Linked DNA regions of Homo sapiens: region 2 is linked to region 1. Evidence: fine-mapped expression QTL. A gene starts in region 1. The other region holds a variant in brackets. All regions are shown on one strand. Distances are between the middles of the regions.

The links. PIP is the estimated chance that this variant, and not a neighbour inherited with it, causes the effect.
Region 2: its variant is fine-mapped to the expression of LINC00899 in skin (TwinsUK, PIP 0.95).

Annotation. Positions count from the first base shown.
Region 1 is chr22:46,040,428-46,049,543 of GRCh38, reverse strand. LINC00899 (long intergenic non-protein coding RNA 899) reads left to right here and starts at 4,676. Exons shown (of 4, transcript NR_027036.1): 1 at 4,676-4,935; 2 at 5,845-5,981; 3 at 6,904-6,970; 4 at 8,492-9,116. LOC124905135 (collagen alpha-1(III) chain-like) reads right to left here and starts at 4,900. Exons shown (of 2, transcript XM_047441696.1): 1 at 4,537-4,900. It overlaps PRR34 (PRR34 long non-coding RNA), which reads left to right. Exons shown (of 2, transcript NR_165243.1): 2 at 1-1,013. LOC124905136 (a long non-coding RNA gene) reads right to left here. Exons shown (of 2, transcript XR_007068137.1): 2 at 9,107-9,116.
Region 2 is chr22:46,022,806-46,031,362 of GRCh38, reverse strand. No RefSeq gene overlaps it. Among named protein-coding and RNA genes, the nearest start is that of LINC00899, 18 kb to the left of the region's middle. RefSeq lists an enhancer at 2,050-2,603. The variant A/G (reference allele first, on the strand shown) is at 4,305.

The sequences.
Region 1 (9,116 bases):
AGGTTTGCAGTGAACCGAGATCACGCCACTGCACTCCAGCCCTGGACGACAGTGAGACTCTATCTCAAAAAAAAAAAAAAAAAAAAAGTCAGATGCAATGCCAGGGCTGTGGTGTGGGACTGTCACTGCATGAGGCATGGGGGCTGAGGTACTTGGCCAAGGGGGTTTTTCAGAGACCACCCCAAGAGTCTTCTGGAGCCAAAATATCACCCCTAATGACTTAACTGGGAGCCCCACCACTAAAGCAGGGTTTCATCATGCTAGGAAGTAATCAGAAAAGTGCAGACAAATGTTCCTGGAAGTGTTGCCTACAATGGGGAAAACTGGAAATAACTGGGAAGAACCCAAGTGCCTGATAATAAGGGGTTAGTTAAGGACCTCTGTCCAGTGGAATATGCTAAATAGTCATGAAAGTTCATTTGCAAGACAGTATCTTCTGACTTAGGAAAATATTGTGATAAAATATTAATGAAACAAGCAGAAGATAAAATGATACACCTAATAAGATGCTAATTTTGCTTAAAATATGTTTTGACAGACTAGGTGTGGTGGCTCACACCTGTAACCCCAGCACTGTGGAAAGCTGAGGTGGGTGGGTCACCTGAGGTCAGGAGCTCGAGACCAGCCTGGCCAACATAGTGAAACCCCATCTCTACTAAAAATACAAGTTAGCTGGGGGTGGTGGTAGGCGCCTGTAGTCCCAGCCACTTGGGAGGCTGAGCCAGGAGAATCGCTTGGAGCCAGGTGAATCGCTTGAACCCAGGAAGCAGAGGTTGCAGTGAGCCGAGACTGCACCACTGCACTCCAGTCTGGGCGACACAACGAGACTCCATCTCAAAAAAAAAAAAAAAAAAGTTTTGACAGAAGCTGGGTGAGGCCTTCCCAGTGGCTATCTCTGAGTGTGCTTTCATAGGTGATTGACAAATGTTTTTCTTTTCTGAGGACTCAAAGTGTTCTAAAATGAGCATGGAACATCAATGATGGCATTAAAGAAAAAAAAAAAGAATGGCAAAGACGAGGAGTTGTACTCCTTCACTGAAGCTGCCTTTGGTCCCTCCCTGGGCCTCAGCATGCGGCACGAACACGTGTGAGGGGCAGGGCTGGCTTTGTGGGTTTGTGACCCATACCACCGCACAGGGCCCTGAGCTTAGGAAGGCCCTGCATTCGGAAGGGCCCCAAGCTCGTTTTAATTCACACCATCGTCACCACCTTGTAATTCTCAGGCATTTTCAAACCAGGGGGCCACATTTTCTTCTTACCCTGGGCCCTGCAAACTCTATAGCCGATCCTGGCGAGGAACCCTGGGCCTCCGGACACCTTGACTTTTCTCTCCAGTTTCCTGAATGCCGCAGCCAGCTTTCTGGGGTAGGTTTATTTCCCATGCAGTGACTCCTTATATTTTGTCCAGGGTTTCCAAAATCAGGGGCCCAAGGACATTAACCTCAAAAAATCAAAGCATATATTGGCTGTCCCCCGGGACAGTGGCTGCCTTGTTAGGAGGTGGGTGGGGTCACTGGCACAGCCCTGGCATTGCTAAATGGGCTGTTGGCAAAAAGAGGAAACAGGGCTCTGTTCTGTAAAAACATGCGTGAGCATTTGCAGTGCTTTTTCTGGAGACTGAAATCTTTCTGTACACCTCACCAAATTTTCAGAAGTTTCTTATGAGGTATGTGTTTTCTCCAGTAAAACCAGGTGCCTCTGACTCAGGGGCACTGCCTATGGACCTGTCCTACATCTCTTTCTACCAGTTAAGGCTCAAGGATGCCTGGGTGACTCTGTCCTACGGCTTCTGCAGCCACACTGCCAGATAGGTGGTGAGCTGCCTGTCTCTGGAGGCATTCAACAAAGGCTGCACAGGAAACACCTTCTCTGGCATTAGCCTAGAGAAGCTCACCTGAGGGTGTCACTGCACAGGGTATCTGGCAGCTTCTAAGGCAGGACCTTGTCGTCTTTTCTCTCTGTGCCCAGTACTCCATACAGGAGTATAGGTGTGGGGGAGGTGTTCAGTGACTGTTTCCTTTAGGGTACGGAAACAAGTGCCAGAAGGTGGTGAGGTAAGCGATGCAAAGTTGACATGAGATGTAGGAGAGAAATTCCTGAGCTGCCCAGAAGCAGGTGATGTGCGAGAGAAGCCAGCAGCCACGGGCCCCTGGAGCAGCAGCCGCTGATACTGAGTGCCTGCCGTGTGCTAGCGGAGTGATCGATGTTCACAGCGATTGTCACCGTTCTCCCAACAACGCAACTGATACAGAACTCTTTTTGTTTGTTTTGTTTGTTTGTTTGTTTGTTTGTTTTTTTGAGACAGAGTCTCGCTCTGTCACCCAGGCTGGAGTGCAGTGGCGCAATCTCGGCTTACTGCAACCTCCGCCTCCCGGGTTCAAGCAATTCTCCTGCCTCAGCCTCCTGAGTAGCTGGGACTACAGCTGTGTGCCACCACACCTAGCTAATTTTTGTATTTTTAGTAGAGACAGGGTTTCATCGTGTTGGCCAGGCTGGTCTGGAACTCCTGACCTCATGATCTGTCTGCCTCGGCCTCGCAAAGTGCTGGGATTACAGGTGTGAGCTACCACACCTGTCTGGCAGAACTCTTATTAAGCCCCTTTTATGAGTGAGGAAACTGAGGCCCAGAGAGGTGAGGTTACCCAGCTAGAATGAGGTAGCGCTGGCAGGTGGAGGCAGGCCTGCCTCAATGCAGAACTTCCCTATAAGCCCAGGATTTTTGGTATGCTGCGACTCTACTGCCTGGGACATGAAGAAAGTTCAAGTTCAGGTTCACTTTCTGCATCCTATCTTTCCTTCATTATACCCTGGGCGGGTATAGAAGGTCCCCCAGAGGGTTTGGGGATGGGGCAGGTCAGGTTCCTCATTTTAGGGAGATTTTAACTTTAAGTGGGCTCGAGCAAGTGTTAATTACCTGGACAGTTCATGCCTGTGGAGGCCGACCCTCCCTGTGGTGCTGGGTCCATGAGATACAGACTCTCCTGCCTCCCTGCTCCCCAGATCCCCGGGGTCTCCTGCTCAAATCTTGGGCTGGGGCCAGGGTCACTAAGAAATCTGCTTTCTTTGAACACTAACCAGTTCAGGCGTACACAGGAGTTGCAGTCTCGGGGTGGGGGCATGGGTTGGGTTCAACCCCAGAGTGTTTCCTCTGTCCTGCAATGTGCTCAAATTTTGGACATTTCATGTACAAATCTGGATTTCTTCTGAAGTCAGAAGCTCTAACAGCCTCAGCCCTTATCCTCATGGCAGCAACAGGCTAGAGCCAACTGGGCACTCTGTCCCCTGCCGTCACTGCAAACACCCTCTGTGCTCCAACTGACGCCTGTAGGCTGCCCTGTGACAGCCCTGCCAGAGAGTCCAGGGACATGGTGGGGTGACCCACTCAGATTCTGGCTGGCCAGCCCTCTCGGCTTGGGTGCTCCCCTGAGGAGGACTTTGGGAGCGTAGGCACCCAGGGATGGAGGCAAGTTAGCAATGCTCTCTGGAAGGCTGGGGACCTGGCCACCACTGGGAGTAAGACCTGACAGATGGTCCCTGCTGTGGTTGGGGGCACCTGATCAAACTGGGAGGCTTGTGGAGGCCCAGGCCCAGGACAGGTCTGTGAGTTTCCAGGGCTTTGCCACCGCCGACTGGTGGGGTAGGTTTCTATCCCAGGAGTGCCCCCCAGGGATCAGACCAGTCACAGGGACAGAGGCCTTGTCTCAGGCGGAGAGAGTGGCATGCAGAGAAGCTAGCTGGAGGTATGGGCTGGGCCTGTTGCAGACAGGAATAGGGGAGGCAGCAGGGTCCCTCACCTGCTCCCCAAGGAACAGGCTCTACAGGGCCCCAGCTTCTCCTCCTCCCCAGGCCCTGTCCATGGCTGTCCTGTGACCCAGCACCTGCCAGGCTCACTTGGCACTGTGGTTGCCCCAAGCAGAGCCGACAGGACAGTTGGTGGCCAGGGAGTCTTGCTCAGGATGGTCACCCAGGACGGTCAAGGGAAGTCACTCAGGATGGTGCTGGGGGTGTGGGGGGATCAGGAGCAACTTCCACCTGAGCCCCAGGACCGGAGCATTGCAGCGGCGAGGGGCTTGCCTCCTTGTGCTGTCGGGGGTCCCTCATCCCACAGGCCCTCACCTCCTGTGCTGCCCCTGGGCAGCCTGGCCTCGGAGGGTCAACACCTGAGGGCCCGAGGGGCATCCATGCCCCCTCCTCCTTCCCTCCAGCCAAAGGTGGGGGGCAAAGCGCAGGGAAGAAAACACCAGGAGAAAACCAGAGAGCTCTCGGTTCTCTTTTAAGAGCCCTGATGGCCGCAGCGCAGAGCCCGAGGGGAGGGAAAATGTCGGGAAAGATTCTCTTCCGAACTTTGCGAGTCTTTGTTTGGGAGGCTGGGGGCTGACTTCGCCGGGGGCCGGGCCGCGGGCTCGGCCGTGCGCTCCGGTGCAGCGGCCGAGGAGCCCCGGCGCCCGCCACCCCGGGACACGCCCTCGCAGTCGAGCCCGGACCCCGACCCGGACCCCAGCGCCGCCGGGCGAGGGCGGGAGGGGGAGCGCTTACCAGATCGTCCCGAGCGCGCCGCGGTCCAGGCGGGCACAGCGCAGGGTCAAGTTCACGTCCGGCCCGCGGGCTGCCCGAGGTCCCCGGGCGCGGCTGGGGCAGCGGGAGGCGCGGGAGGCCGAGGTCCGGGTGGCCGCCGCGGCCGCCCCCGAAGCGCTGCTGTCACCCCGGCCGCGCCCCCCAACTTTCTGCACAGTCGCGGAGCTGGAAGTTTCCGGGCTTCGCGGACACGCTGGGCTGGGTTTCAGTCGCGGCTCCGAGGTTGGCAACAAAGAGGGAAAGAAGGAGGAAAAGCAGGCCGGGGAGGGGAGGAAGAGAACCGCGCGGAGGCCGCGGCGCCGAGAGCCCCAGAACTTCCAATTCTACCCAGAAGCTTTTTTCGTCGTGTTTTTCTCTTAGGTAAACAAGCAAGTTCCACGCCCCAGTCCTGCTGGGGCCTTCGCCAGCCACCGCTCTGGGCTCATCTCCCGGCGCCTCCTCGGGGCACCTGAGCGTTTTAAGCCCCACTGCCAAGTGTTTTGGACACAGGTTTTTTTGCGGGGTGGTGAGGTTGGGCACAAGATGCTTCCTAAAAGGTTGTTGGCACGCAGACCATGGCCCCAGTGACGGAGCGGTAGGCAGGGGCTTGAGGAACACGCTGTCTTTGTCTCGTCCCCAAAGCACCCGGCCGTGGGTCACCCGTGATCCCTGGAGTGGAGGGACTGTTGTGACCCCTGGTGCTCCAGGAGAAGGGGTTCCATGCTGGGTCCCGGGCCCAGGCCCACGGTGCCCTCAGCCTGCAGTTCTCCACCTTGCGGAATGATTTGCTGGCCCGGCCCAGCTCCCCGGCACCACCATTTTCTGCCCTCTTTTCCCTGCCTGGCTTCAAACCCTCCCAGGCAAGGGTCCCGAGGAGACACCTGGGCTGGGGGAGGCAACTGAGTGGCCCCAGGCCTGGGAATCTGCAAAAGTGGCCAAGCCACATCTCTCGAGACTGCAAGGGCCCTGGAGGCGCTGGGAGGCACAGATCTGGCTGCCAGCTGGGCCTGAGGCCTCCCTTTGTCCGTCCTTCCTGTTCTTCCTCACCAGGTGTGTTTACGGAGAAGACACTCCGGGCCAGGCCAGCTCCTCCAGAGCACTATTTCAGGCTGGGGAGAATGCGGATTTTTTTTTTGTTGTTGTTTTTTAAAGAAAAATGAACAAGGAGCCTGGTTGGGGATTGGGGTGGGAGGAATATTTGTCTTTTGTCCCACAAACGTGTGTGATGCTCCAAAGGGCTGGAGAACCTCTCTCTTAAGTGGATATTTTTCCCCTCAAACGACTTCTCAGACATGATCCTCTCTGAGGTTGGTCCTGGGCTTCCATACGTGATTCATGGAAGAGGTCTCAGCCCCAAGAGCCCCTGAGGGTACTGTCCACTCCCCCTGGAAACTTCCAGAACCTGACGTGGGGCTGAAGACATAGAGGTAATGGGGATGGGCTGGTGGGGCGCTGGCTGGGACAATGTGTGGAGCCCTTGTTTTCAGAGCTACAGATGCTTGTCAGCTGACAGTTCGTTTCCAGCATCCACAGTGGACCTCCTTTGGGGGAGCATTTACCTGCCAATGAACCCCAAGATCCTTTCTCAGAGGCGGCGGGATGAAGTTTTCCTTTTTTTTTTTTTTAGTTAATATATTTTATTTAAACCAATATATCCAAAATATTATCAGTTCAACATACGATCAAGATAAAGATTAATGAGATACTTTACATTTTCATACTAAATCTTTTTTTAAATTTTTGTGAGTACATAGTAGGTATAAACATTTAGGGATGAAGTTTCTTACTGTGTTTTCCCAGTAACAAGCACTGGCATCAGCTGTCATGATTTCTCCCCAAGGCCTAGGATGGTCAGCCTCGCACGCTCCACAGCAGAGTGACTGAAGCTCTATCGAGGTGTGGCACGAGCGTGTTGTCATTTCAAGAGAATCTGCAGCCTCCCTGGTTTTTAATGAAAGCTCCTATGCAGGGCCTGGCCCTTTCCTGGGGAGGGAAGGCTGGCTGTGTCTCCCGCTGCATCCTCACTGGGAACTTCATTCCTGAGCTGCGACCGCTATTTTTTGGATTGGAAAATGCCTTGGGAACGGCTCATCTTCCTGCGGCTTGAGCCCATTTGTTTTCTGACTGGTGGTCACTGGTGATTAGAGTGTGTCCCAAAGGGAACCGTCACCTTAGTTCTATCATACACTATCAATAACTTGTCCAGGGCTGACTTTGTGGCTGTGTGGCTTGCCCAGTGGTAGAGGGCCGGTGTGCAGAAGGGCCCCACACTCAATGTTTGGCTGTCCCCGGTCTTAAAATTCTTAGTCATTCTTGAACAAGGGAACCCATATTTTCATTTTGTTCTAGGCTCTGAGAGTTACATAATTGATTCTGACTTTGGCTGTTGGTCAACAGTGTCATAAGGTAAAATAAGGTAAAAATCTATGATTTTTATATTTCTTTTTTTCTTTCTTTCTTTTTCCTTTTTTTTTTTTTTTTTTTTTTTGAGACACAGTCTTGCTCTGTCACCAGGGTGGAGTGCAGTGGCGCAGTGGTGCGATCTTGGCTCACTGCAACCTCCGCCTCCCGAGTTCAAGCGATTCTCCTGCCTCAGCCTCCTGAGTAGCTGGGACTACAGGTGCGCACCATCATGCCCAGCTAATTTTTGTATTTTTAGTAGAGACGGGATTTCACCATGTTGGCCAGGGTGGTGGTCTCGATCTCCTGAACTTGTGATCCGCCCACCTCGGCCTCCCAAAGTGCTGGGATTACAGGCGTGAGCCAACGTGCCCAGCTGATTTTTATATTTCTTTTACTAAATTCTGTTTACAGAAATAATTCCAGATTCTATGTAAGATACAAATATTTTAACTGAAGATCATTGTATTTAGGGAAAATGTTCACCTTTAAGAGACAGGGGCTGGGCGTTGTGGCTCACGCCTGTAATCCCAGCACTTTGGGAGGCCGAGGCTGGTGGATCGCACGAGCCCAGGAATTCCAGACCAGCCTGGGCAACACGGCGAAACCCTGTCTATGCAAAATATACAAAAATTAGCCAAGCATGGGGGTGTGCACCTGTAACTCCCAGCTACTCCAGAGGCTGAGGTGGGAAGACTGCTCAAGCCCGGGAGGTCAAAGCTGCAGTGAGAGACCTTGTCTTAAATACAAACAGGCAGGAAGTCGTTATAAGCATAATACAATCCTGGATGTTGGAATCATCCCTGTCCAGCCTTGGCTCTGCCACGTGGGTGCTGAATGCTGCCTCAGGGACCCTGGTGCCCAGCTCCCACCTGCAGGGTGTTCTGAGGAGCCAGCACGCTGGGAGGGCCTAGCAGGAGATGTGGCATGAACCAGGTATTCGATAAATAAAAAGTGCCTTTGATTGTCACGTTTATCATTTGACATGTAGGCACAGGTGCAGTTTGATTATTTTTAATGTAAGTCTATTTTATCTCTTCCCGTTATAAAAGCAATACACACTGTGATAGACGGTTTGGAGAATTCAGGAAAGAAAAAGAAAAAGAAAAAAAATTCCTCCTAGGCCCTCTGCTCCAGAGCCTCCAGCCGTCACATGACAGTGTATTTCTTTACAATTACAGAAATAGATACGTGACTGTTACATTTTGAAACTTTTTCTTTTACCTTGACTTATTTTTAAATAGAAACACTAGTGAGGCCCCACAGAACTGAGCAGAACTAATGGCCCCCCATGTGGTGGAATAGTTCTGAGCTGGCCCCACTTTGGATGCAGCCTTCCCCGGCAAGTCTAAACCCAGTCTCTGTGGCTGCCTGTTCACAGGGACCGTGGACTGTGATGTTTACAGTACGAAAGCACTGGGAGAGAACGCTACATCACAAAGTGTCCTTAACCTGCTGCCGCCTCAGCTTTCCCATTTGTGACTTGGTTAAAAAAAATTTTTTTGACAGTTTTAAGCTCTTATTTTAATTTCCACAGGCTGTTGTAGAATCTGCTCAGCCAGGGAGGGGAAAGGAGTCGGCAATCAGGTCTCCTCCTGGGCACCTTTGTGAGGCCAGCTGGCGAGAGTGGGGGGTGACACTGAGGTCCCAGCAGCTCCAAATGCAGGCAGAGCCCTGTCCTCAGAGAAGGTCACAGCCTAGCCAAGCCCAGCCAGGTGGATGGGCCCACGGAACGCACAGGAACCTGGAACGGAGGTTGAAAGCAGGAAGCACAGTCTGTGACTCCCCAGCCCACTCTGCATTCGACCACTTGGGGCCCAGAAGCTTCAGGAAAGGTGCACAAGGTCACTGGGTCCCAGTACTCCCAACAGGAAGGTCTGGTCCAGGGACAGGGCTCTTCCCGACTCCCCTTAGCCACACGCACCAGAAGTTCTGCAGTGCCCAGTGGGCATAGCAGTCCCCAAGAATGACCCAGCACTGAAGCTGAGCCAAAGAACTTGGGGAGCGAGCCACACCCCCTCACTCCCTCTTCGCCTGCTCCAGACTTGCCAGGCGGTTGCTTTTCGTGGGAACCGGGATGTCCTCACCACCCTGTCCAGGGCCCAGCCCCATGTCCCTGGCCTGCTACAGCTGGAAAAAAAAAAGAGAGATGTTTGTTTTTA
Region 2 (8,557 bases), 18 kb after region 1:
CCCCCCCCCCCACAACTTGGCCTCCCAAAGTGCTGGATTACAGGCGTGAGCCACCGCGCCCGGCCAAGGACTGTGTCTTGAGCGTCCTCGGTGCCTAGCCCAGGGCCTGACATGAGTGTTGAGTCACATCATATTTGGAGGGGCAAGTCCAGGACAACACAGCCTGGTTAAAGCGAGCGGCTGAGCACTGATACATGGGCTAGCACTGGTCGGAGATTATTCCAGACCTCACATTTCAAACATGTGATCATTTGGTAACAGGATAGCTTGAATTTTGTTCTTGACAAAGAAGGATTAAAAGGCAAAGGAAAGCTGGAAACAAGATTACAAATTCACGTCACCTAATAGAGCAGGTGTAACCAGTGTAACCCTGCCCCTAATCATCTTCAGGCCTCTCTTCAATGCTGAGCTGTCCTCAGTGGTCACCCTGGGCCTCCCAGCTCTGAGGCTGAGCGCAGGATTTCAATGCTAATTACTGATAGTACCCACTGTCTGATCAGCAGAACATCCACAGTAGAGCCTGCCCTTGGAAGGGAGGATGAATCTCCTTCTAGAACAATCTGCAAGGCTCAGTGTGGACGCTCCACTCAGGCTGGTCATGCATCAGGCATTCCCTCCCCCATGGGTGGCCCCAGGCTCATGCACACACAAGTTTGCTCCTTGCCTCACACTGTGGGGACAGAGGGCATCTGTGCCTTGTCCCCTCTTCTCTATTCTCATAAGCGTCCTTGCATCTTGGAGTCAGGATTGCTTGGGCCCAGGAAGTCGAGGCTGCAGTGACCCATGAGTGCTGGAGCTGCAGGCTGCCCCAGGGGCCTCCCCATGGTGGGCGCTCATCACACTGGCCAGCCCGATACTCATCTGGGTTGACCTCTGAGAACCGCCAGGTTAGAGGGCCTGAGTGCAGCCAGGGGACCAGCCAGGAAACCCACTTGGTCTAGGGGGTTCAGGAAACCTGTGGTCTGGGGCAGGAAGGGATGCCGAGAGGAGGCCACACCTATATGGAGGCCCAGCCCTGATCACGGTTCCAGCTGTTAGGCCGGATACCACCGCTAGCTGTTTTCCAACCATCAAATGTGAGGACCATGTGGCGAGTTTTCCATAAGGCTCTGTTTATCCAGCACAATGGAATGGCCTTTGCCCTGAGATTGTCTTCTTACTTTTTTTTTTTTTTTGGTTTAAAGATATTCTCTCAAAAAGGGAAATTGTAATTATTTTTCTAAAGGCCCTAACATGGAAAAATAGAAAGTTGGCAATCTTCCGTAGGTCTGCAATACTCCTTTGAAATTTGACCAGCCTGTGAATTCCGGATGTCTGAGAACCCCTGTCTGCATGCTCCCTGCAGAGGCCACCAGGGAGAGTTGCTGGGTCACTGCTCCCTGTTTAGAGCCTGCAGTGGCTCCCTATTGCCCTAGGATCTGCAGCCGAATTCCTTATCATGGCATCAAAAACCTAGGCAGGTGGGAAAAGAGAGGAGGAAAGGATCAAGGGCATCTTCCTGGAGGAGGTGGTATCTGAACCAAGCCTTGCAGGATGAGCTCATTGGCAAGTGGCAGGCTGAGAGGGCATTCCACGGGCAGGAGAGCACCATGTGCAAGACAAAGCTGGGGTGGCTGGAAAACAGCTGGGGGTGGTATCCAGCCAGCTAAGCAGGGACGGGGTTAGGGACGCATAGGAAACTGATGCTAGCAACACAGTGTAGGGAGGGTAACATCCAGGCTTCTAAGTGATTCTGTATTTTGAGACAGGGTCTTGTTCAGGCTGAGTGCAGTGGTGTGATCATGGCTCACTGCAGCCTTGACCTCTTGGGGCCCAAGCAATCCTCCCTCCTCAGCCTCCTCAGTAGCTGGGACTATAGGCGTGTGCCACCACGCTGGGCTAATTTTGTGTTTTTAGTAGAGATGGGGTTTCACCATGATGGCCAGGCTGGTCTCAAAATCCTGACCGCAAGTGATCTTCCCGTCTTGGCCTCCCAAAGTTCTGGGATTACAGGCATGAGCCACTGCACCCGGCCTTATTATTATTATTATTATTATTTTGTGGAGACAAGGTATCACACTAATGTTGCCCAGGCTGGTCTGGAAGTCCTGAGCTCAAGTGATCCGCCCACCTCAGTCTCCCAAAGCGCTGGGATTACAGGCAAGATCTACTGCGTCTGGCCCTAAGTGATTCTTAGAGCAGCGAGGTACATGTAATTATGTCTACTTCATATTTAAGGTTTGGAGGGAAATGAGAGAGGGCTGGGGAAAGGCCTCGAACCCCCAGGCTAGATTTTCTGCTGTCTGAGGGTCTGTCTGAGGCTGGCTTCTCTCCTTTGGTGCCCATTTCACCGCCTCACCTGGTCCCTCTTTCTTGGGCCTGAGACTGGCTGGGGCTGCTTGTCTATGGGGCCCAGGTTCTTGTGCTCTGGGGGAAACGCACCCTCGAGCATGATGCCCCCAACACTGGGGGCTGTCTCTGGTATCAGGTGGGGCCGCTGACTTCACACGTGCCAGGAGGAAAGTGCTACAGGAAGTTGTGGGTCCTTGGCAACCTCATGCCGGAGGCCCCAGGTCTGCAGTTCCAGTCTCTAGACCTCCTGATGGGCATCCTGGCCAGGCACTGTGTTCCTGCACACACCTTTCTGCAGAAAGACAACTTGCTCACTTCCCCAGAGGCTTGGGGGTGGGGACGTTCCTGTTGGACAATGGAGCCCACACACCCAGTGGGGAGCTCCCAGGAGAAGCCTGCTCCCACCTCCCAAGAAAGGCTCTGAGCCTCTTTCCAAGTACTGGAAATGCCAAATGCGGTGACCTGTCCCCATCCACCATCGTGCAGAGTGACCCACACTGGTGGGCCTTCACCTATCCAACTGTGAGGTCATTCAGTGCGTCCTGGGTGCCACTGTGCTGTGGGAATTCAGAAGTCCTTGCCTACTCGAAGCTCCCAGTCTAGCGGGTGGATGATAATATTGCCTGAGCAGGGCTACACTGTGGGAAGGATGATGATAAGGGCAGAACACTCTGAGGGCTGGTCCCAACGTGGAATGCTCAGCTCCGTTAGTCCTCAAGGCATCTCTGGAGACGGTGACCCAGACTCAGGGCTCAGGGTGACTGTCCCCAGGCCAGCAGGCTGGATAATGGCAGAGCAGGCGGGAGCTGGGGGAATGCCATCTTTACCACTACCTTCCCTGCACCTGCTGGGAGACCCCAGCTCTGGAAGTGCCTCTGGAGATCATGAAGGGCAACCTGCCTCATTGTTCAGGGGAAATCGAGGCTGAGAGAAGATGCCCCAGGCCCCACAGAGAGTCCTGTCAGAGTCCCAGAAGGGTCCTACGCCCCAGGCTCCCCAGCCAGCCATTCCTGCAAGGTGCACCCGCCCTTCTGGCTGGGCAGAAGGCACCCACGGCAGCCGGAGAGGGGGTCTTCTGGCAGGAGGAGTGGAGGTGGAATCGGGTGGAGGCACCTGGCAGCTAGGGTCGTGGGGAGCTCCTGGCAGAGTAAGTGGGGTCTCCTGGCGGCAGGGGAAGCTGGGGGAGGGGGCCTGGTAGGAGGGGGCTCCCGGCAGGGAACGTGAGGGGCTCCCAGGCCGGGCCGGGCCGCCCGCCCAGACGCGCTGCCAGGCTGATTAGCATGGGCGAGGGGCGCTGGCGCGGGGACGCCGCCGGCCGAGCTGGCACGTCCCTCGCGGGCCCAGCTGGCCGGGGCGAGACACAAAGCACCTCAGACGGTGGCGGCGCTCGGCCATTCACGCGCAGGGGCGTCCCGGGCGCGGGCGGCGAGGAATTCCCGCCGCCGGGGCGAAGACCAGCCCCGCCCGGCGCTCCTGACCTTGAACCTTTGTGACTGGAGCGCATGCAAATCGCGGCGGGGCCGCGCCAAGCCCCGAGGGCGCTGCGCCGCCCGGCGTGTCCGGGGAACAATGCGCCACTGTCCCCACGCGGCGCCGCGGGCTGGGAACTGCGCAGAATGTCAATGCGGGCCCCCGGCGCGGCGGGGCGCGGCCCACGGGCGCGTGCGTGTGCGGGTGCGTGCGGGTGTGTCCGGGTGTGCGCATGTGTCCCCGTGTTGGCCCGGGCTTAGCTGGACCCTGGGCCTGGTCCCGGACCCTGCGGCCCTGGCGACCCTCCTGGAGAGAGAGTCCCTTTGCGACCAGGTCCAAAAGATCTTAGGCCCTTGGAGGTGACTGCTTCTCCCTCCTTCCTGCCCTTCTTATTTTTCTTTTATTAGGTTGATTTTTAAAGATCCTGTAAATGATCAGTAAGGAAATAAAGGCTGCCCCCAATGACTGTCCCAACCCAGGGAGAGCTCTGCTGCGTGGAGAGG[A/G]ACTCCCTCGCCTCCTCTCTCCCCTTGGGGCAAATTCTTCCTCACAGCCCAGGGTGAACTTTCAATTCAGCGTCTTGACTTTTTCCTGGAAAATAACATTTGTCATCAACCTCTTACCAATGTCCCTTTTAAAAACTGCATGGTACTGTTCTGTGCTGTGCCACAGTCCCTGCCACTGGGTTTCCCGGTCACAGGGACAACAGCTTGTCAACAGGGTCTTCCGGGGCCGTAAGTGGATGTGCAAAGAGAAAGGACAGGGACCTCACCAAGAGCTGCTAAACTACAATGTGCTCAACTGAGCCCAGAAAGGCGCCAGGCCCACATGTGTGTCCTGCGGCACCCCTCCCCACCTGCTCAGACATGGTTTAAACAGACAAGACAGAAAAAGCACACGTGCCAGGTAGGCAGCTGCAGCTGATTTTTATGTACATGTGCCTGACCAGGTGATTCCAGCAACTTCTGTAAATTTGGATTGGGCACATTTGTGATAGGTGACAGAGCCACAACCCAGAGTCTGATGTCCCCGCCCCGCAGCTGACTGGCGACCCATCACTTGTCCTCCAGAGACTCGGTATCCTCACCTGATTAGGGGTCTGTGAGCACTGCCTGCCCATCTTGCAGAGGCAGTGGCTGTGAGGGTCCCTGCGCACACGCACACCTGTGTGGGTGGGGAGCGTGCACACAGGTTCATTTCTGCCAAGGTGCTGGGGAGCTCAGCTCTGTCATGGCAAGGGCTCAGGACAGGAGGAAGAGGTTCAGAGAAGGCGATCTTGGGCAAGATGCTCCCTGTCTGGGCCTCAGTTTCACCAGAGCTAAAAGAGGAGGTTGTAGAGACGCTCTCTAAGCATCCTTCCAGCTTCTCCAGATATACATGAATAAGATCACTCTTTCAAGGATGGGGATGGTGTACAGGGCTGGATCCTTCCCAGCCAGGGTGCCTGGGATTATTGGCTTTCAGCAGCCGACTCACGGAGGCCTCCTTTGGGCTAGGCACTGGGACAGACCCCTGCCTCCCCAAAGGCATGAGACCCTGGTCTGCCATTTGGGAGCTCAGAGCCTGGCTAGAGGCAGGAGAGGTGAGGAGGGAAGATAAGGACACAGATGGTGAATGTGGTGAGAAAGGAAGCATGAGGGGGTGGGCATGGTGCATGGGAGAACAGAGGAGGCGATGGAGGAGTCCAGGAAGCCTTCCTGGGAGGCGGTCGCCTGAGCTGAGCCTCAAGGAGTATGAGCAGCTTCTCAACAGGAGAAGAGAGTGGAGAGCACTTTGGGCAGAAAGTTGCAGGCAGAGGGAGCATTCCAGGCAGAGGGAGCATTCCAGGCAGAAGGAGCACTGCAGGGAGAGGGTGCACTCAGGAAGCAGGAGCACTCAGAGAGAGAGAACACTCCAGGGAGAGAGAGCAAGAGGGTGCAGGGTGCACTGCAGGGAGAGGGAGCACTATGGGGAGAAGGTGCACTCAGGGAGCAGGAGCACTCAGAGAGAGAGAACAATCCAGGGAGAGGGAGCAAGAGGGTGCAGCGTGCACTGCAGGGAGAGGGAGCACTCAGGGAGAGGGAGCACCCAAGGGAGAGGGAGCACTCAGGGAGAGGGAGCACTCAGCGAGAACACTCCAGGGAGAGGGAGCAAGAGGGTGCAGGGCGCACTGCAGGGAGAGGGAGCACTACAGGGAGAGGGTGCACTCAGGGAGCAGGAGCACGCAGAGAGAGAGAACACACCAGGGAGAGGGAGCAAGAGGGTTCAGGGTGCACTGCAGGGAGAGGGAGCACTCAGGGAGAGGGAGCACCCAAGGGAGAGTGAGCACTCAGGGAGACGGAGCACTCAGAGAGAGGGAGCACTCAGGGAGAGAGAACACTCCAGGCAGAGGGAGCAAGAGGGTACAGGGTGCACTGCAGGGAGAGGGAGCACTCCAGGGAGAGGGAGCATTCCAGAGGAGGGAGCACTTAGGGAGAAGGAACATTCTGAAAGAGGAAGGACACTCAGAATTCACTTTAAAGAAATCCTTTCCTTGGGCAAATTGTCCTATTTCTTTGCATTTACAGACATTCTGCCTCATGGGTAGCCAGCAGGACTAGAAACACCAACATTAAAATAAAATATAGAAGTTGGTCCAGCTAAAGGAAATGTCAGGGTGGGAAAATGAAACGGGGGAAGAGGGTGAGTTGAGTTAAAAGAAAAAAAAAAAAAAAAAAAAGCCTGCCTTGAACTCCTGAGGAGTCGCAGGTTGGGAGGCCACTAATTTCTCAGTCCCAAGATTTGAGTGCCTTTAAGGAGAAGCTGGTTGCACAAGAGATGGGCAGGTTGATTCTGGCCCCAAAAGCTGGAGGCCTGTGAGCTGCATGGCATCAGGTCCTCACCATGGCCCCCTAACATCAGGGCAGGAGGAATATGGGGTGCACCTATCAGGGGCTGGCTGAGTGGCGGCTGGGCCCTACCTGCCAGGTCTGCTGCTCTCAGAGTGGGCAAAACCAGGAGAGGAGAGGAAGCCTTGATGTGGCAGGACACACTGCATAGTGCACTCTAGGGTCTGGAGGACACCTGGGAAGGGAATTGGCTCAGACTTGGGAGTCAGGGATGGCTTCCTAGAGGAAGTGATGGTGAAGAGTTGGTCTAATTTTGGCAGGGAGGTAAATCGCTGTAAAATGGAAATAACAGCAGTACCAACCTCCCAGGGTGGGTGAGGAGCAAGCAAGCCTGAAGCACAGTCAGTACTGGTGGCCGCAGCACAGCTTCCGGGTCCTCATTTTGCTGGAAGTCTGGCTGTTCCAGAGGCAAGGCTGGGACATCCTGAGGGTGTCTGGGAGGGAGATCCAGTTCTGAATTCTTGAGTCCTTTGTACTCCTACTAGTAAAATATAACTTCTGAAATGAAATTTATGTCATGATTGATGGATCTTCACTCCCAAAGACATGCTTGGAAAACAAACAAAAGCTTAAAAGGCTGCAGCCCCGAGGTGACTGCTGTGTTGTCAGCCTCACTGACACCTGGGCACCTTGGAGAGTCGGAGCTGGACAGGGCTGTGGTTTCTGGTGGACAGAAGGGGAGACTGAGGCTCTGGGCTTCTGGTCTAAAGCCAGGATGGGCCAGGGTGAGAACCAGTCTCCCGCCTTCTCGGTCTTTCCACTACTTCACCGGATTCCTCGGATATTAGCAATGGAAAAGCCATCCCATGTTTGGGAAGGAGCGAGTCATACTTTCCATCCTGGCTTCTTGCGAACACCTGGGTCTCAGTGAGTCCCCCACCCATCCCACGCAGAAAAGCTGGGCTGCGTCACCCAGGGGGCGGTTAATGAGGATGCTTTGGTGGTGCTGACATCACGGACAGGGCTCCTGTGTGGATCGGCCGCCTGGGCTCCAGCTGGCAGCCATGTGACTTGCCCCCTTGGCTGCCATCGCCCCAGGGAGGGGCCTTGGGCAGAGGGGCTGGCTCAGTGGGCAGCTGCCAGGGCTGGTGGGGGCTGACCAGAGGGTATTGGCAAAGTCTTAGAGGTTTCCGGGCCCAGGAGAGAAGGAAGGGAGTGTGGACACTCGGCCTCTGTTTCACGGCATCCTCCCACCTTTGACCTCAGTGGTGCGAGGGGAAGGAACCAGCCCTGGAGCCGCCTGCCTGGCTTGACCCTGGCTTGCTACTCATGGTCCCGTGTGCCTAGACAAGCTGTTTCACCTCTCCAGCCTCAGTTTCCTTCTGTGTGAAATCGGATAACAATCGTAGGGTGTAATGTGGAAACTGCAGGGAATTAGGAATTAGGACGGTGCCGGGCACATAGTAAGTGCTTAGTAAACGCTAGCATCCTGGAGTCTCCCTCCCTCCACACCCAGGCTGTTTTGACCTGTGCTCTGTACTTCTGTTCGCCAGGCCTGAGGTCCCAAACTGCAAACTGCTCCATGTGGATGGGCTGGGGGCTTCCTTTCTGCCTTATTCCCTCCCTCTCTCCCTCCTTTTCTTCCTTCCTTTCTTCCCTTCCCTTCCCTTCTCTTCCCTTCCCTTCCCCTCCTTTTCCTCCTTCCTTCCCTTCCTCCTTTCTTCTCCTCCTTCTTCATCTCTCCTGTCTCTCTCTCTCTCCCTTCCTGCCTTCTTTCTGTAAACTTGATTACTGTCTGCTTCTGTGCTGGTGTCTGTGCTACTTTCTAGAGACAGAAAGTAAAATTAGACAGATATCGACTCTGTTATTCTGTGCTTACAATCTAGTACAAAGCAGCAGGCATTGGCTAAATCAGAGCAGTACTGTCCAACAGACATTTCTGTGTGCTTGAA